Regions from separate parts of the Homo sapiens genome. Here all the other regions are linked to region 1. Evidence: fine-mapped expression QTL. A gene starts in region 1. Each other region holds a variant in brackets. All regions are shown on one strand. Distances are between the middles of the regions. Region 1 holds the start of SDK2 (sidekick cell adhesion molecule 2). Region 2 overlaps SDK2 (sidekick cell adhesion molecule 2). Region 3 overlaps SDK2 (sidekick cell adhesion molecule 2).

Region 1 (8,175 bases):
TATTTTACAAGGTAAAAAGAAATAGGCTAATTCTTTTTTAAAATTATCTTTATTTAACTCAATAGCTGCAAACTATAATCATTTCAATGTGTGTCAGTAACCCAGTCTGAAGTGCTCTGTCTCACACATGGCTGGTGGTTATCATACTGAACAGCAGAATTCTATGCTAGACACTCTACTAGTATGCATGCTGAAAATGTTTTCCAGAATAAAAACAAAAAGTTGACAAACAAACCAAAATGCATGTTGCTTACACTGCCCAGTCTATGGTATTTTGTTATGTCAGCTGGAGCTGAGACAGGGACTCAGGGCTTCTCTCTCTCCGATTGAGATTAATAAACCACTTCTACCTCTTCCACTACTTCCCTTTCTCCACCTTCAACACAGAACAAAAAGGAAAAATGAATGCCATGAGGTATTTACTGGAAGCCCTTGTTTCAAGGCAGTGAGGTGTCTCAGTTCCCTGCAGGTAGTATAGATGGCTTTGCTGAAAGTCTCTACTCTGGGGGGCCCTGGCCCAGCCCCACCTACAGCAACCCTGAGAACAGCCTCACTCTGAGGAATGAGATGCTGGGAACGGCGTAGTTGGGAAGCACGAATGAGTGATTTTGTTCTGTAGACCCATAGTTTAAAGGCCACCTCCACTCTGCCTCCTCTTCTGGCCTCACTCATTTTTCTTCTAAACTGAGTTGTGTCCAACCCTTGCGCTCACTCCTTCCACCTTCTTTTCCCAGGCAAAATCGCCACCAGAGTGCATTTCTTGGCTAAGGGCAGCCCCCAGCAACTTGGGAAGCAGAGAACTTGGGATGAGGGAGTGGGTACAGGGAGTGGGTACAAGGCGTGAGGAGGGAGCAAAAGCACGTGCCGCTGCCTCCCTGGTATCACCGTCACTGCCTCCTGGCTGGTCCCTGCCAGTCCCCGACACAGATCCGGGGCTGCCAGAGGATACAGTCTTACTCTGCAATTGCACACTCTGTTCTAGCTGCTGTTACATTTGAGATTGAAAATAGAAAAAAAGAGACACAATAACCATATTGAAAAGCTGATTCTGTCCCTGCCCAGCCTTTGGGTTCTGTGTGGGAAATGGAGTGTGATGTAGAGGGACGGCAGGCTAAGGAGGATCTGGGCCTTCTGTGGCTGAGCAGCTCATCTGACTGTCCTGGGTTTCGCCTTCGTGCTCCTTGGCTGGGGCATGGGGTAATTCTCCTCCCACTCTGAAGCCTCCCTCACAAGATTCTGCAGGGCTGCCCTTTCGTTGACTATGTGTGGGATGGAAGGCTAGGAAAAGGGCCCTATCTGGGGTTCAGTGAGCATTTTCCTAGAAGGGTAACATTTGAAAATCACATCCACTTGGAAGGGAGAAGGAGACAGAGCAGAATGATCTAGGCTTTTCCTTCTCTTTGGAAATGTGTTGTGATGCTCTCTGCTTCCGCCGCCCCCCACCCCGAACTAAAAGAGCCAAAGGTATGGAGAGGAGGGTCTTCAACAAGGTGCAGACCCCGGGCATGAGGGAAATGGGATATAGATGAGGAAGACCCAGGTTCCGTCCCGAGTGTTCCGGGAGAGCTGTCCGTGCGGGCTCCAACAGGAAGGGGCAGGCTTGCAACAAGGAAACAGAGTGAGCCTGGGAAATCCTCGCAGCCCTCCTGACGTGGCGCCCACTGTAACTGTACCGATGCAACCTCTAATTATACCGCTGGTGGCAAGAATGAGCTCATGGTGTCTGCAAGTGACTTTCCCAGTAACGAGCCCCTCTCAAAGTGGCAGACTCCCAGCTCAGCCTTCTCCTGGGCCAGCAAAACTCTGGCAAGAGGCAAAATCAGAGAGTTCCTTCCTGTGTGTGTATGTGTATGGGTTGAGGCCAAAAAGAGCTCAAATCTTCTTCTTCATCCTAGATGGATGGAGACCGAAATCTGCTGTAGGAGCTGCAGGAGTGGTGTCCTTTCCTCTCTAACTGGCAGGCATGCCTGGAGACTTCCAACAAAGAAAAGGAAACCTCCTTCCTCACACCAGTCCCTGATGGGTCCCCGTCTCACGTGTTAGGGATGAAACTCCCAGAAGAAGGTTTGTAGGGCTCCAAACGGTTGTGCAAGAGGCCTCCTCTTAATAAGGGAACGATGCTATTCGAGGCCCTAGGCACGTGGAGCTCACATTCCTGCCTGCTGGACTTCTGGGAATTGGGCACGATCAGGGTGGAATCCACCCAGGTTTCAGACTTTTATGTCCACGCGAACTCCTACCCTCTGTGATGTAAACGGAGATGCAGCCCTTTCTGCTATCTGGCCTAAGAGACAGAAGGAGAGGTTCCCCGCAAATACGGCTCTCAGGCCCCCTCTGTGAGCGAACAGAGTAACAGCACCCTAAAGACCAGAGCTCTTCCTGACAGTCTGGGAAGGGCCTGAGCTCACAGCTGGGGACATTCAGAGTATGTAGGGGGTGTGCACTGTCACATCTGGGCATCATTAAGCAGGTGGGAGTGACATGGCCACCAAGGAGAAGGAGAGTTGGTCACATCTAGGCTGCCTGCCCCCAAAGCCCTCGCATTTACAAATCAGCCAGCCAGAGGGGCTTCAGCTGGGGATGGAGCAGGTTGCCAGGGGGAAATGTTGTTTGAATTAGGTGATTGAAACGCTGTAGGCAAGGCAGGCCAGCTTCTCAGACATTTTTAATAAATGCTTACGGTTCTTCTTCCAAAGCAGGTGAAAGGAGAATATATAAGTAACGATATATTTGCGGTGGCTATGCCTATTCCACAGCAATCACAAGGGGTGTCCTTGGGGTGGGAGTGCGCCTGGGAAAGAGTTGGCAATCAGTGAGTGACAGTCCTAGACTTCAAGGACCAGAAAGACTAGGCAGCCGTGGGGGACCAGACTAAGTAGGACCACGAGAGAGAGTAGAGAGAAGCACTGTGGCAAAAGATGGAGGGTCTCACTAGCTCTTTATTTCCCAGAAGAAATATCAGACACGCAGGGTAGACTTCTGCATTAAGCACCGCAGGCCCAGTGCCAGGGACCATAGTCTTTTGGGGCCCATGAAAATGTTTTGATTTCTTTTAAAATCAGAAAAAAATAAGTAAAGCTTTAGGCTGAAGAACATGTTTTAATATGCAATATTAATATACTTTTCCTTATGCCAACGCAGTTGCAAAATCTTATTTTTAATAATTTTGTTAGCAGGGAAAGGAGTCCACCGAGGCGAAGGCACCTGAAATTTTCCCAGTGCCCGGGAAATTTTAACAGAAGCCTGTTAACCCCAGCTGAGCTTCGTGGAGTAGGCGCTAGCTCTGGGCCACAGCAGAGGACGCCTCCGGGCTCTCTTGTTTGAATTCCTCCACCAATGTCCGGTTCTTCTACTCTTTACAAGCTGGGCTCCGAAGGAAAAAAGAAGAAACAAAGAACGCACGCTCCTTGGCACCAACTTCACTTTCTCAGGCTTCTGCAGGTCCCAGGCCTCCCGATGTCTCCCCCTCCGCCCTGAGCATTTCCAGACCTTGGAGAGCCTGACTTGGGAAGGGGAAACTGGAATCAATCGGTTGACCGACCCCCTTTTCCCAACCGCCGCCTCCCCACCAATCACTCCATGTCCGGAAGGGGGCTGGGGGCTCCCGACTATAGGAGACTCTGGGAGTCCTATGAGGCCTTTGAGACAGGGGCGCGAGCGAGGCTGGAAGGAAAGGCTGGGCAGAGAGCGGAGGGGCTCGCGCGCATCTCTCCCGGCGCGGCAGAAGGTTGGCACTGCTGCCCCCCTGCGGGTCCCAGAGCCGCTGGGCGCCCGCGGCCGCGCAGTCGGATTGTATTTCTGCGGGGCTCGCTCCCGGGCCTGGCTCGGGGCCGCCGCCGCCGCCGCCGCCCCTCCCGGCGCGCAGGCTGCTCTCCAGTCGCGGCCACGGGGTAGCGCTCGGCCCCCCTCTCCGCGTCTCCGCCTCCGCCGCGCTCGTCCCCGGCTCACGCTGCCCCCGCAGCTCCGGCTCGGCGCAGGCAGGAGCGGCTCTCTGGACGCCGAGCCCGGGAAGCGGAGGGCGGCGGGCTCGGCGAGCGGCAGCGGCGGCCGAGGCGCTGGGGCGGCCGTTGCTCCTCCGGCCCGGGAGGTCGGCGATCGCCGGGCGTCCGAAGGGGCGCCGCGTCCCCGGAGCCGGGGCTGCCCGCCGGGCTCTCCGTGCGTCTTCCCGAGAGCTCCGGCCGGGGCGCGGCGGAGGGCAGAGCCGCCGGTCTCCATCCTCGGGCCGGCAGGAGGCTCTGCGCCCGGGCGCCGGCGACAGCCCGCGTCGCGAAGCCCAGCACCCTCCCCCGCCGCCCCGCGGCTGGCGCGGACATGGGCGCTCAGGGCTGCGCGCCCGGCTCCGGGACCCGCAAAGTTTGCTAGCCGGCTGGGCGCGGAGCCGAGGGCGCGCCCGGCCCCAGCGCCCCCGGAGGAGACCCGGCGTCTCCCGATTCGGCGCGAGGGCGGTGGAGCCCAGAGGGGGTGGTTCGGCCCCGCCAGATGCTGCCTGCAAAGTTAGAGAGAAGAAAACTTCAGCTCCAGGGAGATTCGGACCGCTATGCTCACCGCGTCCCCCGAAACCGGCGCCCCTAAAAGAACCCCCGCACCCGCGTCTGCCACTGCGCTCGGCTCTGGCCGGGTCCCGGGGGCCCGGCGCCTGGAACGGCGGTGACTGCGTCGGCCGGGAGAACCCAACCAGGGGGCGGGGAGGGGGCGGGCAACGTGGCCACGGGAGGAAGTTTCCTGAAGTTGTCCATTTATTCCGGAGCTCGGCCGGCGACCCGGCCGGATCGCAGAGGCCGCCCTGTTTGGGAGAAGTCGGAGTTGGGGTGCTAAGGGAGAGAGGCGCCCTAGTCCGAGAGGGCGGCCTGGCCTCTTTCTCCCTGCTCGCCCCTCGCCTTCCGGGCGCGCTGCCGGGCTCGGACTAGTACAGAAGAGGAGGAAGGGTTGGGGTAGCCAAGCGCTGCCCCTCCCGGGCATATTACACCCCGGGGCACGGAGCCGCGTAGACTGACTGTTTCCTGGGACTAAGCCACGGGGTATCGGACCCCACCAGGATTATAAAACAGGGCGGAGGGAAGGGAGACCCCGAGGACCCCTCTCCAGGCTGGTCACCATGTGGGGGCTTTTGATCTGGACACTGCTAGCTCTGCATCAGATCCGCGCGGCCAGAGCCCAAGGTAAGGAGGGACCCCCACGTGGGGACAGGGAGGGGGCTGGGAGAGTGGGCGGGGGAGGGGCGGCGGGAGCTGGCCGGCCTCACGGTGACCTCCTGGACACCCGGCTTAGCCGTGGCAGAGCCCTCTCCAGGGAGTTTCAAGACACCCCATCTCCCAAGTTTTGGGGCTCTTTTGGGGGTGGGGCAGTCTCTCCGAGACTTGTGGCTTCCGAATGGGGGAAGGTGGGGACGACCTGGGGAGGCAGAGAAGAGCCCAAGGTGAAGTGGGAGGGGCGCTCCCCTCCCCCCGTCTGCTGTGGCTGCCCTGCGCCGGCTTGGGAGGGGAGCGACATTCCGTGCCGGGCTCCACGCTCGGCTACGCTGAGCTTCCCAGACCGAGCTCCTGGTTCCCTGCTCGGTGTCTGCGGGGAAGGGCAGGGCCCCTGCCGGGCAGGCGATGGCCTCCCCGGGGCGAGGGAGTGGGGTGGGCGAGCGCTGGATGCCGGGTTGCTCGCCCGGGGAGAGCAATTGCCCGGCTTGGCCACGTACGGGAGCCCGCCCCTGGCTGCTCGGCCAGCCGCTGGGGCTGGGGGTGCTTCGCTGCGCGGGCCTGGAGCCAAGGTCGCGGGTGCAGCCGCGGACCCACCGGGGGGTGGTGCACAGGGAGGGTCTGAGGCCTCCCCTCCTACCCATCCACCCACACCCAGCATCCCCGCCCCTGCCTCCAGCCTCCGCTGTTCGCTCGATAGTCTGTGCAGCCGCTCGCTGCTGTGACCTGTGGCTGCCGGGAGCAGCCTCGCGGTGGAGAAGGGCTGGTGGCTTTGGGTTTGGGAGTGCTACGAAGGATCCGAGGTGTGATCTGCGCTGCCCGCTTCCTGAGGGTGGATGCCCAGACGTCCCCCTGGTCCCCGGGCAGGTCCCCGAGGTGAAGGGCGGCTGCACCGGCGGTTCCTCGACTTTGGGGTTCGCCGATCCAGACAGTGGTGTCAGCGGTGTCCGAGCGGCGCCTGCTGGGGGCGGAGGGAGACGAAGCCTGGACCGAGCTCCAGGACTCGCAGGGCTAGGCCTTCACTCTCGCAGGCTCAGGAGGGGGCCAGACCCACCCTAGGGGTCCGGACTGTGGGGGCTGCAACCCACTCCCCACGCCGCCTCGTGCGCCAGGCAATCCAGAGAGCCAAGATCAAAGAGATGAAAATAATCAGCTCTCACTCACAGGGCTGAGGGGAGGATTTTACGAGGTAATTTACATAAAAGCACTTCGAAATTTTGTAACGAGCCCTATAAATGTAGGGTAATAAAAGTTATTATTTTTATGATCATCATAAAATCTTTGAACAAGCGAGGACCTCAGAGGTCATCTTATTCTAGTAGCCATTTAACAGATAGGGAAACTGAGGCCAAATGGCATTAAATGACTTGCCCAAGGCCACTCTGTGATCTGGGGGCAGAGGCAGGTCTGGAACCAGATGAGTTCTGAGCCTCTCTCCCTCAAACCAGGACTAGCTGCATGGGGTCTCCTTGGTCTGGGCCCCCTCTCTGAGGGGTCCCAGGAGGACCCTGATGCTGGCAGAATAGGAATGGGTTGTCCTTCATCCTGGAGCAGCCTCACAGTTGTGCTCTGGGACAACCAGTGTTACTAGCCAAAAGCCTGGACGGCGTGGAGGGACGGGATGCCAGCATCTGTCTGGACCCTTCTAACTTCATTGCTCTACAGACTTTTCAACAATGGTATGATTTCCCTGGGCAGGTGGCTCACCAATTCTTGTCTCATCTAGGACCAGGCCCTTATAGAGTCCCCAGGGCACCTGATGGCCCTTGCTTTGGGGTCTTCATGTGTCCCTTCCTGCCCCACGTCCACACCTGTGCCATCCACTTGAGGCCAAGATCCCACCCCTCCTGCTGAAGTTAAGGCCAGGTGGCCCCCTGTCCCTGCGCCTCCTGCGGGAGGGGCTTCCCTGTCAGAAGCAGAGAAAGTCTCTGTGATTGATTCACTTCCTCTCTGCCTTTCTTGTTTGCTGGCTTTTTGCGTGTCAGGCTGCCCAGGTCCCCTGCTGCTCCGCTCGTGTTCTCTGGCTCCGAGAGTGTTTTCCAGCATCGAGCCCTCTCCTGCTGTGTGTGTCCCTGGAGGCAAGCCTTGCAAAGGATTGTGGGAACGTGGTCCTAGGCTTGGCAGTGCTGGGTTTGAGTGTTGGAGGGGGTGGGATTAGGGCATGAGGTCCTTTCTTATCTGCTTTGGGGTTAGAGAGTGAGTTTTTTCCAGTCTCAGGCCATGACATTAATCCTTTGGGGGGTAGCTGAAGCCACTAGCACTGTCATTTCTGAGCCCACAAGCCTGCTTCTCCAGGCATGGCACAGAACGAGGGACGAAACAATTGTTCCTCCCTTGAGACAAACTTCACATCGACCACTGTCACCAGATTTTATCTGAGCCTAGCCTGGTTGGTTTTTTTTGGGGATGGGGGGTGGGTGCTGGACCTGAGCGACATCACCTGGGTATACTGAAAGCTAACATTTGACCATTGGCCGTATGCCCGATGGGTCACATGATGCAAACTCATTTCCCAAGCAAAGTGCAGTGAGGTTGTAGAAAGAGCATTGGCTTTGGCAGCAGAAAGAACGGGCTCTCATGATCTGGCTTTGCCGCTTCGCTGAAGAGAGGCCTTCTGCAAGGCTCTTAGCCACTAAGAGCCTCAGTTTCCTCATCTGTACACTGGCAATAATAGCTCTTGCCTTGTAGAATTGCTAGGAGAATTCAAGATATTCCAGGGGCAGGGCCCCAGCCAGTGCCTGGCACATAGAAGGTACTTAATACATGGCAATTATTATTCTTGTTATGACGGTTTTAACATTAAGCTAGAAGTCCATGAAGAATGGTACCCTGCCACCCACCAATAAGACCTTGAATTCTTTTTCCTTACCCAGGAGGTTTCTTTAAATTCCTTCCATGGCCACATCACTGTGTCTCAAAGAGTGGCCCTCAAGCACTTAGCTCCCAGGGAGTTGTAGCAATGCAGATTCTTGGGCTCCGCTCCCAGACA
Region 2 (8,175 bases), 88 kb after region 1:
TCCTGACCTCAAAGAGGATCCTGTCTCCTGCCACAAGTCCTTGCTGGCCCAGACGCCACCCACTGGTCGAGGAGCCTGTGTGCTCCTGAATCAGGATCGGGAGGGGGTGGGCACCAGTGGCTCCATGATCTGACCAACCCTCACAGTAGCCCTGTAAGCAGGGTGTGTGGTCCCCAGGACTCCCCACCAACATGCGGGTGCTTGGATTTTGAAGTTCTGTATTTACACAGCTGGTAAACAGCTGCTGTCCTGACATCTCTGAAATGTTCCATGTTCCACACCTGAAGGGTTAATGAGGCCAGGCGAGGTGGCTCATGCCTGTAATCCCAGCACTTTGGGAGGCCGAGGCAGGCGGATCACTTGAGGTCAGGAGTTCGAGACCAGCCTGGCCAACATGGTGAAACACCGTCTCTACTAAAAATACAAAAATTAGACGCGCATGGTGGCGCACGCCTGTAGTCCCAGCTACTCAGGAGGCTGAGACAGAGAATTGCTTGAATCTGGGAGGTGGAGGTTGCAGTAAGCCAAGATGCACCACTACACTCCAGCCTGGGCGACAGAGCAAGGCTCCGTCTCAAAAACAAACAAACAAAAACAATAAAGGGTTAATGCGAGGCACGGTCGGGTGCAGAGCAGCCTCCAGCCCAGCTCCAGCCCTGCAGCCCAGCTGTCATTTCCATGAACATTTCTGGTTATTCAGTCTTTCTAACAACACCTTGTCTGTCATTTATTGTGGTTTTTGGTGGTGGCACTAGGAGTGACTGCATCCTTTTAGTGAGGAAACTGAGGCTGTAAGAGCTTAGGCAGTTTGCCCTTAGCTGGATTTGAACCTGGCTCTGTGTGCGGGTCCTCCATAGTTCACTGCCTGGTCTCAGTAGGGCCAAGGCAGGACCCTTGGGGCCATAGACCCGCTTCCCGTGGTGTGATGGCCCAGAGGAACCCCCAGCCCTTCATGCCATCCCTCCCAGGGGTGACTGCCACTGAGCCCAGCAAGCTAAAGATACAGAGGAAATGCTTAGTGAGGCCAAGACAACCAGCTGGTGCCCAGCCCTGGGGGGATCAGGCCAGGGACTAAAGGCTTTGAGTTGTCTCAGACCCTCTCTTTCTCTCATCCTATCTCAGCAAGGTTTTTGTGGCATTATGATTCGGGAGCACAGGCATTAGGGGCACTTGTCTCTAGCAGGACAGGGAGGTAGGGAAGAAAAGAAAGGGGGAGGGGCCAACCTTACCTGTCCCATCCTGTTCAGGCTGCAGACCTGCCTGTGGGGTGGCCCTTCGGAGGCTGGAGAGCAGCCACAGTATGGTGACATGTGTGGTATGGTGGCGGGGGCGGGGGGCACAGGGAGCGGAGTGGGGAGTGGCGGATGGACAGAGCTTGCCCCCACACCATCCTGCTCAAGACTTACTGCTCTTATCTCAGTGTTCTTCCCATCTGCCCCTCTCATTCTCCACGTTGGCAGAGAGTTCTCATTCTCAAGAGCCCGCAAAAAGAATTATAATACACATTACAATGTAATTGTTATATCGTCTATTCCATTTATCAACTCCTTGCTTCTTGCCAACAGTCTTGCGTACATTGTCCCATTTCATCCTCATTGCCACTCCATGGCACATGTATCGCCACCATCTCTACTTTACCAGCGAGGAAACCCAAGGCTCAGAGAGGTTAAATAGTTTTCCCAGAGGCAGGCAGGAAGTGTGTGAACTCGGCAGGCATGCTCTGTCCTTCGTGGGTCACTCTGCCCCATTGACTGGAACAAATACTTTCAGGATCTGGGTGTTGCTTGTGGGGCCCCGGTGCAGGCAGGAGAGTCCAGTTGAAATCAGTATTTAGGTTTTTCTTTCTCCCCATAGAGAAGAGAGAAAAGGGGAGGAGATGGTGCATTCTTTCCTTCCCATGGGTGGTTTTCCCATCTCAGCTAACTTTCGTTTGTTTCTCAGCTACCTTTTTAGTCTTTGAAATGAGGCCACGTCCTGGGAGCCAGGCTGCAGACAGAGCCAGGGAGGCAGGCGTTTTCTCTCCAGGCCGCTACTGCAGTGAGTGAGAGTACCTCTCATTCTGTAGGGACTGGTGGCCCACAGTTCCAGAAGCCAGGCAAAGAGCTCCTATCTAGGGGGAGGGTTGAGACCCCATTTGAGAGCCCATCCTCCAGGATCTTGTAGGAGAGACACATGGCTTGGTGCGGGGGCCCTGAAGTTCTGTTAACTTGGGCACTGACTTCCCATGTGAGGTGGGAAAGGCACTCCATCTCATTGGGCCTTGGTTTCTTCATCTGTCTAATGAAGCTGGATTTGAACCTGGCTGTGTGTGGGTCCTCCATAGTCCACTGCCTAATAATGCTGAGCTGTGAACTTCACAGGCTGGATGATAAAAGGAGATACAGTCAATGCAAAAGTGCTTGAACATTTTAAAGTGCCATGAAAAAGTGCTTGAATATTATTCTGTTCCTCCCTCCCTTCCTCCCTTCCTTCCTTTCTTCCTCCCTCTCCCCTCCCTCCCTTCCTCCCTCCCTCCTTCCCTTCCTTCCTAACTGAAGTTAATTTCAGAATAAGGCATCCGAGTCTCTTTCCATCTCTACCTGGGCATGGTCGTTGTCATTAATGGAGAAATTCTGGAAGGTTCCACAGGAAATCTGGCAGAACCCTAGGCAGAGCTAGTCACAGCCACATCTTTTCAGATTTGCCAGCCCCTCTGACATGTGCTCAGTGAGGCTGTGGGGTCAGAGTCTTTACTCCCCATCAATCTACTGGCAGAACTTTGGGGCTGCCCCTTTACAGCAGACCTGCACCCCTCCTGCCTCAGCAGAAGGCGCTTCACTCCCAGGTGGCAGCTCGGGCTGCTAAGTGCCCCCAGGGCACCCAGCCCATGGTGTTGGGGATGGGGCAGGACAAAGGGGGATAGAGCAACAGGGTGAGGAGGGTCCTAGAACAAGAGAGCTGGACTTGGTTGTCCAGGGAGCCCTGGGGAGAGGCTGAGAGAGAGGATGAGTGAATCCAGGTCAATGCCACTGGCTGCCATTTCTACTGCTGAGTCCAGAGGTGCCCATCGTATCACTACCTGGTAGAGGCTGCAGGCAGACCTTACTGAGGGCAGGAAATCTGGACTCACAGAGTTTAAGGAACTCCTGTTAATGGGAAAGGAAATTAGAATGGCAGGGCTTTGACACTTTGGGTTCTCTCTACCCTCTATTGAAAGAGGACCTCCAACCCAAAAACAAGGAAGGAAAGAAAAGAGGGAGATTAGGAGGCAGGGAAAGAAAGTAAGAGAGAAAGAGAGAGAGAGGAGGAGGAGGAGGATGGGAAGAAGAAAGGAAACATTATAATATTTTATCTGGCTGGGCACAGTGGCTCATGCCTGTAATCCTAGCACTTTGGGAAGCTGAGGTAGGCAGACCACTTGAGGGCAGATGTTCAAGACCAGCCTGGCCAACATGGTGAAACTCCATCTCTAATAAAAATACAAAACTTAGCCAGATGTGGTGGTACACACCTGTAATCCCAGCTACTCAGGAGGCTGAGGCAGGAGAATTGCTTGAACCCAGGAGGTGGAGGTTGCAGTGAGCCGAGATCGTGCCACTGCACTCCAGCCTGGGCGACAGGCAAGACCCTGTCTCAAAAAAAAAAAAAAATCTCGAGGTACAGCAGCTCCTGCAAAGCCTTTGAGGTAAGCCTTGGCAAGGTCGAGCTTGTTCACTGGGGCAGCCACCATTTGTTGAGCGTGCGCTATGAACTGTGTCATTCCATGAGCTTCAGTTGAAACTTACTTCTTATGAGGAATGAGTTCTCATTATTCCCATTGTATAGATAAGGAGGCCAAAGCCCAGAGAAATTGATTTGCTCGGTTTTATACAGCCAGAATATTCTGGAGAATTCAAACCCACATAAGGCCAACCCCAGTGTCTGCACTTTCTAGCTGCTGCGTGGCCTTTGCCTAGCTTAGAAGAATGAAATTTGCTAAGGTTTGTTTCCAATCTCAGTAATCATAGCCCCATACTGTCAATCTGGTGCTAATTTCCTTGTGTGTTTAACTCACACAATCCTCACAAAGCCCCTGTGAGAGAGTTTCTATGATCATCATCACCCCCATTTTACAGAAGAGAAAACTGAGGCTTAGAAAATCCCCTCAAAAGCAATACAGGGCAGAGCTCAGATGTGAACCCAGGTGGTCTGGCTCCAGAATTTGTGCTGACAGCTGCCAGGTTAGACTTCCACCCAGGCAAGCTGAGTTATTAACATCTACTGAAGTCCTTTCAAAACCGGAAACAGGTTCCCAAAGGGGAACAAATGGTAACAACCATACAATAACAGCAATGCCAACAGCCGCATAAGAATTCAGCAAATATTTTTCCTAAAATGTGTGCTTAAAAGAAGAATCATGTGCAGGTCAAACGTGAATGCCTCTACCAAAAATGAGTCACGGTACATAAACATCTGACCATACACAGCCTCATGTCCAGTGAGCATCGCCCAGATGGGCTGCCCAGACATACCTGGCTCTTCGGAGGAAGCCAAGAGAGAGCCATTGTATTTCTTTCCCATCTGGATAAAGTGAGCTCTGTCTAATCAAAGAAAGTCGTCTTCCTTTATTAAA[C/AAAC]AACAACAACAATAAAAAAAACCCAAACTCCGAAGGTAAAAGCTTGCCGCTGGCTTCTTGGAATTATTTGTATTTAACTAAAGCTGTTAGCTGTTTTGCTCTGTTGATCTGTTTGTTTGGAAAGAACCTGCCGCTTCCCATCTTGGTGATCTGCCTCAGTGGCTGTGCCTCCATTCCCGATGTCTGGGGTCATTAAGAGGGAGAGGAATGGTCCCTGCATGTGTCGTTTCCTGGCAGTGACTTCCACTGAGTGCCATCACTTTGCCAACTGTCCACCCCAAGCCCAAGCCCCATGGACAGTGCCCCCATGTCTCCCAAAGCCCCTGCCTTTCCCTGGAAACCCCAGAAGCTCAAGCCCATCTGTGCATCCACTGCCTGTCTCCCTGCAGGGACCATCCACTGCTTCTGGCCAGCAAGGAGGGCTGACTCCCTGGTCCCCCCTGACTCTCTGTGTCTTTCCCAGGAGCAAGGTTTCAAGCCGCCAAACCTCCCCAGGTGTTTGGAGTCTGCAGCATTTCAGTCCCGTGTTTGCTTTTTATGAAAGAGAAGTGATCCCCTCTGCAGAATATTAAGTGGCTCCGGCAGCTTTGGGAAGCAGAGCTGCTAATCCGCCGACATCTGCTGCTTATGTGGTCTTGGCGCCTGGCAGCCCCTCACTTCCTCTACCCCCACCTGGGCCCTTCCTCATCTTCCCAGTTGAGCTCCGGGACATTGAGGCAGAGAGGGAGATGATAGGGGATTCAGGCTAATCCACCATTCTTGCCTGATGGCAGGGACTGGAATAGTGACCTCCAAGTCCCCTCTGAGGCCCAGGGGCAGAGAGGCCTGACCACAGTGAGCAACCTTGGGCCAGCCCCTTCCTTTCCTGGGCCTCAGCATCCTCAGTACATAGAGACGAGGATGAGCTGCGCGGAGTCCAAGGTCCAGTGCACCGCTCCCAATGGCGCCTCCCCCAGGCCAGGAATACTCCCATTCACATGCCACACCTTTGCATGAGCTGTTCTCCCCACTGGAGATGAGCTCCCCCTGCCCTCAACCAGTCCAAGTCCTGCCAGCCTTCAAGGCCAGTTCCAGACTCAAGCCCTCCATGAGGCCCTCGCTGGCTCATCTGTATAGACAGCACTCCTGTTACTCCTGCTCTCTCTGGTTACCATCCTCTCCTCTGCTCAATTCATAGCCTCCCAGGGCAAGACCAAGTGCCCATAGCCCAGCTCGGGGCTGCATATGCAGCTAGACAATGCAAGCTCTAGGGTTCACCAGGGCTGGAGATGGGGATTGGCGCTGTCAGAGGGCCAACCCAGAACAAAGCTCCCCCATCCTCCTTCCTCCCAGCCTGGTCCCCAGCCAGTCTGGGCACCAAGGCCCTGCCTGAGCTCAGAGCACCTCGAGGGCTCCTGAAGATGGAAGAGACTCAGGTCTTGGCAGGAGGAAACTCACAGAGTTTTGATCCTGTAATAAAACCCAAATATGGGTTTGTAACATTTACAGAACAACCCATAAATAAGTGTAAATCAATACTCTACAAAGGATGCCCAAGAGCTCCACAGCACAGCTGGCTTCCTGGAGAAGGTGGACTTTGAGCCAGGACTTGACATACAGAGCTCACACTTGCAGAGATAGAGGAGGATGCATTCCAGGGAAGGAAAGAGATTTGCACAGAAGTGTGTATTAGTTTCCTACAGTTGCTGTAACAAATACCAGACTAGCTGGCTGAAATGATGGAAATTCATTTTCTCACAATTCTAGAGACCAGAAGTCCAAGACCAAGGTGTTATGGGGGTTGTTTTCTTCTGTGGGCCATGAGGGAAGGCTCTGTCCTTGGCATGTAGATGGCCATCTTCTCCCTGTGTCTTCACATGTTCTTCCTCCATATGAGCCTGTGCCCTCACCTCCTCTGCTTATAAGGACTTCAGCCACATGGGATTAGGGCCCACCCCAATGGCTTCATTTAACCTTAGTTACCTCTGTAAAGATCCTATCTCCAAATTTAGTTGCATTCTGAGGTACCGTGGCTTAGGACTTCAACAGATGAATTTTGGGGGCAGGAAGTTTGGCTCATAACAGTGTGGAAGTGGTTCTGCTTCATCTAGGTGCCTTTACATAATGGATTGATGAGCTGCCCCTGTGTGCCTGGCATTGCGCAAAGCACTGGGCTTCCAAAGGGGAGGATGACTTGCCCCCTGTCCTCATCAGGGGGCCTCCTGGAAGAAGTAGAAGACCTGAAAGGGGGCAGAGACCATGGGTTGATGAGGACAAGGGATCTGCTCCAGGGTTAGGAATAGGTGGTCCCAGCTCCCCCTGGAGGACATAAAACCCCTCTCCCTGTGAGCCTCAGGGCCCCAGCTCCCCTAGTAACCCTCCCTCCATGCTCCTGTCCTCTCCTCAATGGGAAGAAGCCAGGGCTTCAGGGGGATGTGTTGGGGCTGCTAGGTATCTCCCCTTGAAGAGGTCTTCTGCAGGCCAGATTTATACCTAGGGAGGGAGTAGGGAAACCACCACTCCTGCATCCAATCTTATGCCCAAAAAGCCTGAAGGGAATCTGAGGCTCAGGCTGGAGCTGGTCATGCCCCCTCTGCCAGCACCTCCTCAGGAAGGGGGTGACTGGCATCCCTGGGTGAAGGCTATGCTGTAACAAGGGTGGGGGTTTGGGGGTGGTGCTATTCACCTGCAGGAGGTGTAGGCCCGAGGAAGGAGATTGCAGGTGGGATGGAGGCTGTGGCCAGGTAGTGGCTCAGGGGTGACCCTGGGCCTCAAACCTCTCTGTCCCCCCCTGTCCTTCCTTGTGCTATCCTGGCTTCTGAGAGGGCAGCTCCCTGCAGGAAACACCATCATAGGAATAGGTGCAGCCGGCAGGGCTTGGGGGTGACTCACCACTGGGCTGCTCACTGGCCCAGTGACTTTGGGCAGGACTTGTTTGATCTCTTGAGGCCTCAGTTTTGTCATCTTTACCAAGGGGATAATAACATCCACCTTCCAGGGTCACTATGGAGACCCTGGTATTAAATAGGCAGTAAGTCCTGGCTCAAAGCCCTTGACAGTGAGAATGGTCTATCAATATCAATTTCCCTACTGGAGGCAGCCTTGGGCTCCCACCACTGGCCCCCCGTGGCCTGTCCTGCCCCATCTCTGCCTCTTGCCTCTGATGGTATTCAGAACACACACACACCCCAGAAGGTGCTTCCATGCTCAAGGCCACCTCCATGCCCAGAGTGGGGCCAAGAGCTCCCTCTGGCCCTTCCCTCCCAGCCCCCACAGAAGCCTCTGCCTTTGCATTCATCCATCCAGAGAAGCAGCGTGACGCTGCAGCCGTCTGCCCTACCTGGGAGCTGCAGCCAATCCCAAAGGGTTGGGATTAGGGTGCTCGAGGAACCCAGAACCCAAACGGGTCTGAGCCTCTCCTCTACGGCTCCTCTCCAAACAGTTCATCCCATCTCTGAGCGCCAGCCAGAGGCTCAGGGCAAGGGCTCTCGAGTTGAGAACTTGCCAAGGAGAGGGCTTAGAGTGCAGTGTAAACGAAGCCAGAGCGAGAAGTGCAAATGAGTTGGTTCAAAGATGAAGTCGCTTAGGGAACTTCGTCTGGGAAG
Region 3 (8,170 bases), 50 kb after region 1:
TAATTTTTGTATTTTTGGTAGAGATGGGGTTTCGCCATGTTGGCCAGGCTGGTCTTGAACTCCTGACCTCAAGTGATCCACCCCCTTCGGCCTCCCAAAGTGCTGGGATTACAGGCGTGAGCCACCGTGCCCAGCACCTTCTCTCCTTTCTTTTCTCACTCCCTCCTACCTACCTACCTTCCTCCTTCTGTACGAATGTACTAAGCACTACAAGAGACACATCAGTGGGCCAGGCCCATTGCACAGGACACAACAATGAAAAATATCCAGCCTCAGCCTTCTGGAAGCTCGGAGACTTCAGTTGGAAAAACAAGAAAAGGGGTAACTCTTTCTAGGGGGATGCTACATTTTCCACTCGCTCCTTACCCGGAAAAGTCCGTTTTCTTCAGCACTCTCATCTATTGGGGATCTGTCTAAAATTTTACTTAAAGAAAGGGTTCCACTACTTGAAGAAAAATCGAAGCAAGCCGGCGCTTGGTGCCTGATCCATTCATTTTATTGTGTAAATGGAAACGGAAAGCAGGAGAGGTGCTGTGACTTACACGAGGCCTTCGAGCTCACAGGTGCCAGGCCCTGGCCAGACCACGTCTTCTCAGCACCTGTCCAGTGCCTCTCCCACCTTCCCCTGCTGGAGGGGACATAGGTATACAGCTAGGGGTGGTCCCTGGAGGGGGATGGGCTGCTCCCGGTGGGACTATTTTTAACCTCTGTAAAGAAAAAGGCCAGCGATCCACGTCGTGCCCGCTGCCTCACACTTACTGGGCAGCTTCCTCTCCTGGAGGGTCATTTACTGACAGTGATGGGTTTCAGGTGGGCCTAGTTTAGCAGGTGGTTTCTATAAAGAGCAGAGCTGCATCCCCAGGGAACGAGAGCCGGGCAGAGGGGAAGCCAGGGGAGACAGGCACTGTCCGTGTTATGGATTTTATCGAGTCATAAACAAGGCTGGAGAATAAACAAAACTGGCTGATGCATGGGGCTGCCTCGGCCAGCTGGCTGTCAGGGAGGCCTGTGCCATCTGAGCTGCCCTGCATGAGCCCGCACAGGTGCCGTCGGCCAATGACCCAGCGACCTGAGCCAGGAGGACAGGGGGTTAGCGTCTAGGAACTCACGCCCCACACCGAGTCTCCCAAACCCAGCAAACTGCCTGTGGGTCCGGCCTACTCCTGTCACCTGTATATGCTTAGATGGCTCCAAAGTCATGGCAGTGGTGAATGGTGGGAGGGTGGCTGTTAACTGGGGTTGGGGCACGGGATCCTAGCACCCTCCCCCTGGGGAGATGGGATGGAAAAGTTCTAGGTTTGGGGCACCTGAGAACAACTCGGACACCAGCTGGCTATGTAACCTCAGAATAGTGACCCAAACCCTCTGAGCGTCACTCTTCCCATCTGTAGAAGTAGAAAGGGAATATTTCACCTTGTAGGGGTATCATAAAAATGAAATAGGCCAGGCGCGGTGGCTCAGGCCTGTAATCCCAGCACTTTGGGAGGCTGAGGTGGGCGGATCACGAGGTCAGGAGATCGAAACCATCCTGGCTGACACAGTGAAACCCCATCTCTACTAAAAATACAAAAAATTACCCGGGCGTGGTGGCGGGTGCCTGTAGTCTCAGCTACTTGGGAGGCTGAGGCAGGAGAATGGCGTGAACCCGGGAGGCGGAGCTTGCAGTGAGCTGAGATCGTGCCACTGCACTCCAGCCTGGGCGACAGAGCGAGACTCTGTCTCAAAAAAAAAAAAAAGAAAAGAAAATAGTCCAGAAGCACACAGTGAAAACTCCTATGAATACATATTTATAAGGATAGCGGTGGGCTGGGGGCAGGATCGGCAGAAGCCTGTCGTTCCATGAGCCCTGAGAGACAGGACGGTAATGTCCATAGTTCTGTTGATTGTGTGTCTCCCACGAGCCCAGGAACTATTCCAGACAGATACGTCCACATCGCAGAGTTCTATAAGCAAAGTATCACAGGAGAGGCCCCTGCTTTATAGAACTGAGATCACAGAAGTTAAATAATTTGCCTATGGTCAGAGGGTCATACCTGGCAGGGCTGAGACTTGGTCACAGGTTTCTTGTGCCCAGCTTCCAGAAATCTGATTGCATCCTCTCATCTTCCACCCAGGGCAGCTCCCCGTCTTGTGTCAGTAGTGGGGTGCTGGGTAGCCAGCACCAGGGAGAGTCTCCACCCTTCAAGGCCCCGGTGAGGTGAAGGAGAATGAAAATATCCAAAACCCATCAGGAGAATACGTGTTAAAGGACAAGAGAAAGACAGATGAGCTTGGGAACATCTTGGCTCTTGACAGGCACTCCCACAGGGATGATTCAGATGAGGTGAGTCCAGGTGCACTGGCCCGGTCCCTGGGCATGGAGCAGGTTCAGACTGAAGTGAGGAGACGATTCCTAGGGCGCCGGACTCCCGACCAGAGTCCCCAGAATGGAAATGGCCGGGGTTCTGCCTGCGCATCCTGGACTAGGGGTGGAGGGAGCAAGCGGGCAACTCCGAAGACAAGGTTAGCACCTCCCATTCCAAGCCAGCTTCATCTCCCTCTTTTGCTCAGACACCGCCAGCCATGGCAGGGAGCTATCCCCAGGGACTTGTCATCTGGAGGCCATGGAGGGAGGATGAGAGCTGGAGAGGCCACAAGATCAGAGTGGAGCTGGGAGGGTCGGGGAGGCTGGAACCAGCCACCCTGTCCTGTGTCCCCTGTTTCTGCTCCTCCTCATCTCCCTTCTGGGGGTGGGGGGAACATCAGAGACCACTGGGAAGGGGGTTGGCTGTGGGTTCCGGGGACATGTCACTGCGGGAAACAGATACATCATGAGCCAGCGCCCCCTTTCAGAGGCTGGGACGCTGGGACAGGGAGGCCAGAGAGAATGCAGAATATGTATATGCAGAAATATATTGAGAAGTAAAATGCACTGATAGGAGTTTTCGTACATTCACACAAACCCATTATGCAGATGAGGAAACTGAGGGTCGCAGAGGTTGACTGGAGCTCCGGCCAATGTTCATACCGTGTCATGCCCCTCTCCAGGGAGGGGAGGAGGCTTCCTCCAGGTCCCCAGTTGGAGTGGGGACCCAGGTGTGTTGACACCTTGCCCTGATCACTGCCCCATATGCCAGGCTGCCTTCTCTCATAGAGGTCGCCACTGCCTCCCCACTCACCCTGCGGGTCCCTCTCCACTACCCCTGCCGCCCCAGATTGCCCAGTGGCTCTGTCCCAAAGCTGCCCAGGACCCAGGTCTCCAGGCTACCACCACCTGCAGCTGGGACTCCCTGTGTGTGCATCCCTGCCCAGGACAGCCCAAACGTGTTGGGGCAGGCACAGGGGGTAGGTGAGGGCCGTCTGCCTGGGACATAAGACTGGGAGTGCCGAGGCCTCACTGTATCCCCCTAAGGCCAAGACCTCTGACTTCTGCAATCCTATGTGTCAAGGGCTTCTCCATCAGGCCGCCTAAGCCATGTCTGCCACACTCTCGGGCTGCTTGATGGCTGCTTCTAGGCAGCAGGGAGCCCCACAGGATGGAGCCTGTCCTCCCAGCTCCCCTGGCCCCTCTCAGCCCCCCTGGCTGCCTCCAAGCCTTCTAGGGAGGATAGGCCCTTGCCAGGGCCTGCCGGTGAGGAGTGGATGCCAGCCTTGAACTGACACTGCCCCCACCAG[G/A]CCCCCCTCCAAACTGCATGCTGGTTCCCAGTGGGTCAGCGGCTACTCCCCGCACCCCAGCTTCCTGCCTGCCCTGGGGCTGTGGTGAACAGCTGGGGCCATCTGGGCCTGGCCTGGGCCCCAGGCTGCCTTTCTGGTGACTCCATACCTCCCTAGGAGGGAGCCTGTGCCACTGGCCAGTCCAAGCGAGGAGGAGACAGCGTTTCCTCTGATGACCCGAGGCTGGGTCCCCTCCAGGGCCCAGACTCATGGCTGTGTGGGAGGCTGGTGCTGTGTGGGATCTCTTGGAAGCACAAGGGCCTCCTTCCCAGGCCCTGGCACACACCAATATTGTGCCCAGACATCCTTGGGACACCCCCTCAATCTGGAGCCATAGGGCAAGAGAGTCTCACCACAAACGGCATTCATTACCTGTGGCCACCCCGACTCTATTTCTCTGTCTCTCCGACACAGGGCCACGCTCTCCCCCAGGCCTGCCTCTCCCCATCTCTCAGACCTCCCTTTCCTCCCTCCTCCTCCTCCTCCTCCTCACCTTCACCCACACTCGAATTCTCACTGACACCCCTTCTGTGGCTCATGGCTTCACTTATTCAGCAAGTGCCCACCCAATGCCCACTTATTTCAGGCACCGTGCTAGGAGCTGTGGGTACAGAGGTAGAAACAACAGAAACAGGCCGAAGTCTTTTCTCGTGGTGATGGCGTTCTGATTGAGGAGGTGATCCACAGAGCAGAGGGTGACAAGGGCTGGGGGAGTGAAGCAGGCAGGTAGTGAGGCCTGTTGTATGTGTGTGTGCACGTGTGCTGTGTGCAGGTGTGTGCTGTGTGTATTTGTATATGTGCAGGTGTGTGCTATGTATGTGCTGTGTGTATTTGCATGTGTGCATGTGTGTGCTATGTGTGCATTTGTATGTGTGTCTGTGTGCTGTGTGTATTTGTGTGTGGATATGTGCTGTATATTTGTGTGTGTGCATATGTGCTAAGTGTATTTGTGTGCATCTGTGCTGCATGTATTTGTATTTGTGCATGTATTTGTGTGCATATGTGTGCTATGTATTACATGTATGTGTGCATATGTGTGCTATGGGTGTATTTCTGTGTGTTCTGTGTGTATTTGTATGTGTTGTGTGTGTGTGTGTTCATTGTCCCATCATGAGGCAGGCAGGGAGTCTTGCAGGAGCAAGCACATTGCTGGGACTCCAGCTTGCTTCTGTGATATCTAATATATTCTCTCTCTCTCTCTCCCCCTCCCTCTCTTCCCATCTCCTCATCCCCACCACCAACACTTTCCAGGGGAGCAACCAAGTTCTTGCCTCTAGGGTCTTAGGGAGCAGCACTGGGGGAGGGAAGGGCATCTTTATACTCAGGAGAAGGGCTTGAGACCATCTGATCTGGAGCAGTCTGAGGACATGAGACTCAGGCCCTCAGCTGCTGCCCGGGGGAAGGCCAGCACCCCAGCCTGAGGGGGTCAAGGGTCGAGGGAGCTGTCCAGTGGCTGACCTTCCCCTACAGCCCACGAATCCCCATCAATGCCGCCTTCCCGCTGTCCAACACTCAGCCTCAGAGGCTGGCCAGAGTGAACCACCTGCTGGCTCCCAGACGTTGGGAGGCCTGACATGACCAGGTTTGGGGAAACAGTTTTTGAGTTGGAAACGATATTAGATAAAGCTGGATTGGAATTCCAGACATATTTATTGCTGTGGGTTGTGGGGCCATTTTCTTAACCTCCAAGCCTCTGTTTTCCCTTCTGTTACATGGGGAGGTTGAAACCTACCTTGTAAATTCCCTGTGGGGATTAAAGGAGATAATGCAACCAAATTGTCCAACACAGACTCGGCCACATGGCCAGTGCTCAAAGAAGGACGGACAGTGAGATATGGCCAAGGAGGGTAAGTGAGGAGCCAGGGACAAAAGAAGAAGAGGGCTGAGGAAGCAGGGTCCCCTCAGCCCTGCCGCCCAGGCCCCTGTGTTATTTAATAGCCACTTTCAGCTGGTGTCTCCTGGAAGCCTTCTGCCTAATCCAGTTAACACCTTCCGTGATCCGATTACTGCATGTCAGAAACCCCAAATCTGATCAGTAAACATGTGAGTGGCACACTTTGGGGGGGCACTGCAGAGAAGGGGTTCAGCTTGAGGTACCATCTGCTCCTTCCCTGGGGGGCTCTGGCCCTTCCAAGCTAGGTGTTCTGCCTCTGGGTCTATTGTCCTGGGCCACTCCTGGTCCCTTAGAGGCAAATGTTGTCCAGGTTACCCCAGGGCCCAGAGCGCATGCCTCATGGTCTCTGGGGGAAGCCCCCCACACCCCATCTCTGTTCCTTTGGGTGGGGGTTTCCTGCACAATGAGGAGGAAGGATGCTCTTGTGGCCAGGATAGGGAGTGGGTGCTGAGGCTCCTTCATTCTCTGCTCCCCACAAACGTTTTGGGCCTCACAGTAGCCCAGCAACTTGAATTACAGAGGTGTCTGGGCCCCCAGGAGTAACTCTGGATCCAGGGATGACAGAAGGACCACAGAGCCCCACATCCACACTGAACACAGCCCCCCAGTGGCACAGACGTAGGCAGAGGGTGGGGTGGGGTACCCAGCCTGTCGAGGGAAGACCTGCAGCAGGAGCTGGGGTGGGGAGGAGGAGGAGGGACGGCATTTGCGCGGTAAGCTTAGAAACAATCCCCCCCACCCAACCCTCCCTGGGCCTCGAATGGGGAATGAGCTGGCTGGACCGGCTGAACTCCAAGTGTACGTCCCACACCACTCTGGGGTGATCCTGTGACACCGGCGAGCTACGGACACCCCCATGCGCTGCAAACACAGCATTACCGGGGTGAGCTGAGGTTAAACCCTGAAATATGCTTGGGAGACGGGCATGTGGCCAGGCCATGTGTCTGTGACTCTTTGATTCCGTAGATTCCCCAAAGCTCTTGGTGTCACGCACGGTGGTTACAATAGGCTCTCCCTGGACCTCCGTTCCTGTCCTCCTTCCGGAAATGGGGAGCCGCCAGGGTGTGCCTGACTGTTCCGTCTTCCCGTCATCTGAGCATCCTCAGCCAGCCACCAAGGTCCCTGTCCTCGCGCTTCCCCGGCCCTCTCTTCCTGTCTTCATGCCCCAGGCTTGACTCAGGGTGACAGCTCCTGGTGTGCCCCGGTTAGACTCCAGACAGTCACATTTCTGGAAGCCAGCTAACCAGGCCAGGAGGTGGTGGGGACAGATGGCTGGAGGTGCTGCCGGGGGCATGGGGAAGAAGTCGTCCCCACCTCCATGTGGTTGGCCTGCTTAAAAAATAAAAAGCTGGAGACTCTTTCCCTCCCACACTCCCTCTTTGGCTGGGTTCTGACTCCATTTTGGTCATTTTAATTTTTATTAGTCCAGTAAAATCTGCTCTTACACATTTCTGATCATACAGGTGTAACCCTGCTGGCAGGTGCAATGCAGCCACACGGAGCCAGCCTCTAATTTCGGCATGATGGGGGCCGAGAGGCCTAGATCTTTCCAAGAAGTGTACAGTGCCAGGCCCACGGAGGCATGGCTGTGGCCTGCAGCCCATGATGCTTTCTTCCAGTTGTGGATTTACCTTCCTTTTTCTGTGGTGCAAGGGCTACTGGTAGACAGGCTGCAGTTCCCTGCATTCATCGTTATTGACAGATGAAGTCCGGAAGCCTGGGATCAGCATGAGGTTTTTAAGCTGAAGGGGACCGCAGAGATCAACTCCCCCCTCATGTGGGTGAGAAACTGCAAGGTGCATTCATAGCACGTACCCCACGTCCCCAGAGAGGCTGGGTGTGCTCTTGGCAGCCTTTTATCTCTCCTCGAGTCTCCGCTGCACTCCAGACCTGGCCACTCTTACCGTTTTAGTGCTTGATGCTCTTTGAAGATGAGGAGGCTTCCTGACAGCCGCGTGATGGCTGCCCTCTGGTATTGCCCCACCCCACAGATAAGCATCTCCGCAAAGCTCAGTCATGTGCCTGCATGAGTAGGGGGTGCTGGATGGGGACCAGGTCTCCTTGTGTCCTCTCATACCTTTCGCCATGCCATGTCCTAGTTCTTGTAAACCTGCATCTCCAAGTAGATAGGGTGCCAGATAAGAGACAGGATACCCAAGTAAATTTGGACCTCAGATAAACATTGCTTCATCTTTGAGCACCAGCATTCCCCAATTTGCGAGAGTATTCTACACGTCCTACAGGTTTGCACTGTTGCAAACCCCAACTCTAACAGCCTTGGGTCTGAAGGGAAGTTCAAGTGTAACCGAACATCCTGTGTTTGTGTTTTTGCTAAATCTGGCAACCCCACTGTGGCGTCCCGGAAGAGTGTGCTGGTGGCCGGGGGAGCAGAGAGCTCAGGGCAGGTGTTGTGCTGAAACCCTGTTAACCTCAATAGGGAAGGCACCAGGTTCGAGAAGCTGAAGAAGAGACCCGGCGCCAGCAAAGGAGACATAGGGTTTTATTAGGGGCTTACATCCAGGGGAGGGTCCAGTGGCAGCTGTCTGGACAGGAGAAATGCCTTACATATAGAAACAGTTAAGA

The links.
Region 2: its variant is fine-mapped to the expression of SDK2 in whole blood (INTERVAL, PIP above 0.99).
Region 3: its variant is fine-mapped to the expression of SDK2 in whole blood (TOPMed, PIP above 0.99). The same link has a PIP of 0.9 or more in lung.

The regions. Positions count from the first base shown.
Region 1 is chr17:73,641,009-73,649,183 of GRCh38, reverse strand. It overlaps SDK2 (sidekick cell adhesion molecule 2), which reads left to right and starts at 4,739. Exons shown (of 45, transcript NM_001144952.2): 1 at 4,739-5,159. The coding sequence starts at 5,096. It overlaps LOC124904054 (a long non-coding RNA gene), which reads right to left and starts at 3,710. Exons shown (of 2, transcript XR_007065893.1): 1 at 3,490-3,710; 2 at 3,080-3,363.
Region 2 is chr17:73,552,761-73,560,935 of GRCh38, reverse strand. All of the region lies in intron 1 of SDK2 (sidekick cell adhesion molecule 2), which reads left to right. Among named protein-coding and RNA genes, the nearest start is that of SDK2-AS1, 43 kb to the right of the region's middle. RefSeq lists enhancers at 1-64, 65-670. The variant C/AAAC (reference allele first, on the strand shown) is at 4,592.
Region 3 is chr17:73,591,216-73,599,385 of GRCh38, reverse strand. All of the region lies in intron 1 of SDK2 (sidekick cell adhesion molecule 2), which reads left to right. Among named protein-coding and RNA genes, the nearest start is that of SDK2, 49 kb to the left of the region's middle. RefSeq lists an enhancer at 3,691-4,236. The variant G/A (reference allele first, on the strand shown) is at 3,655.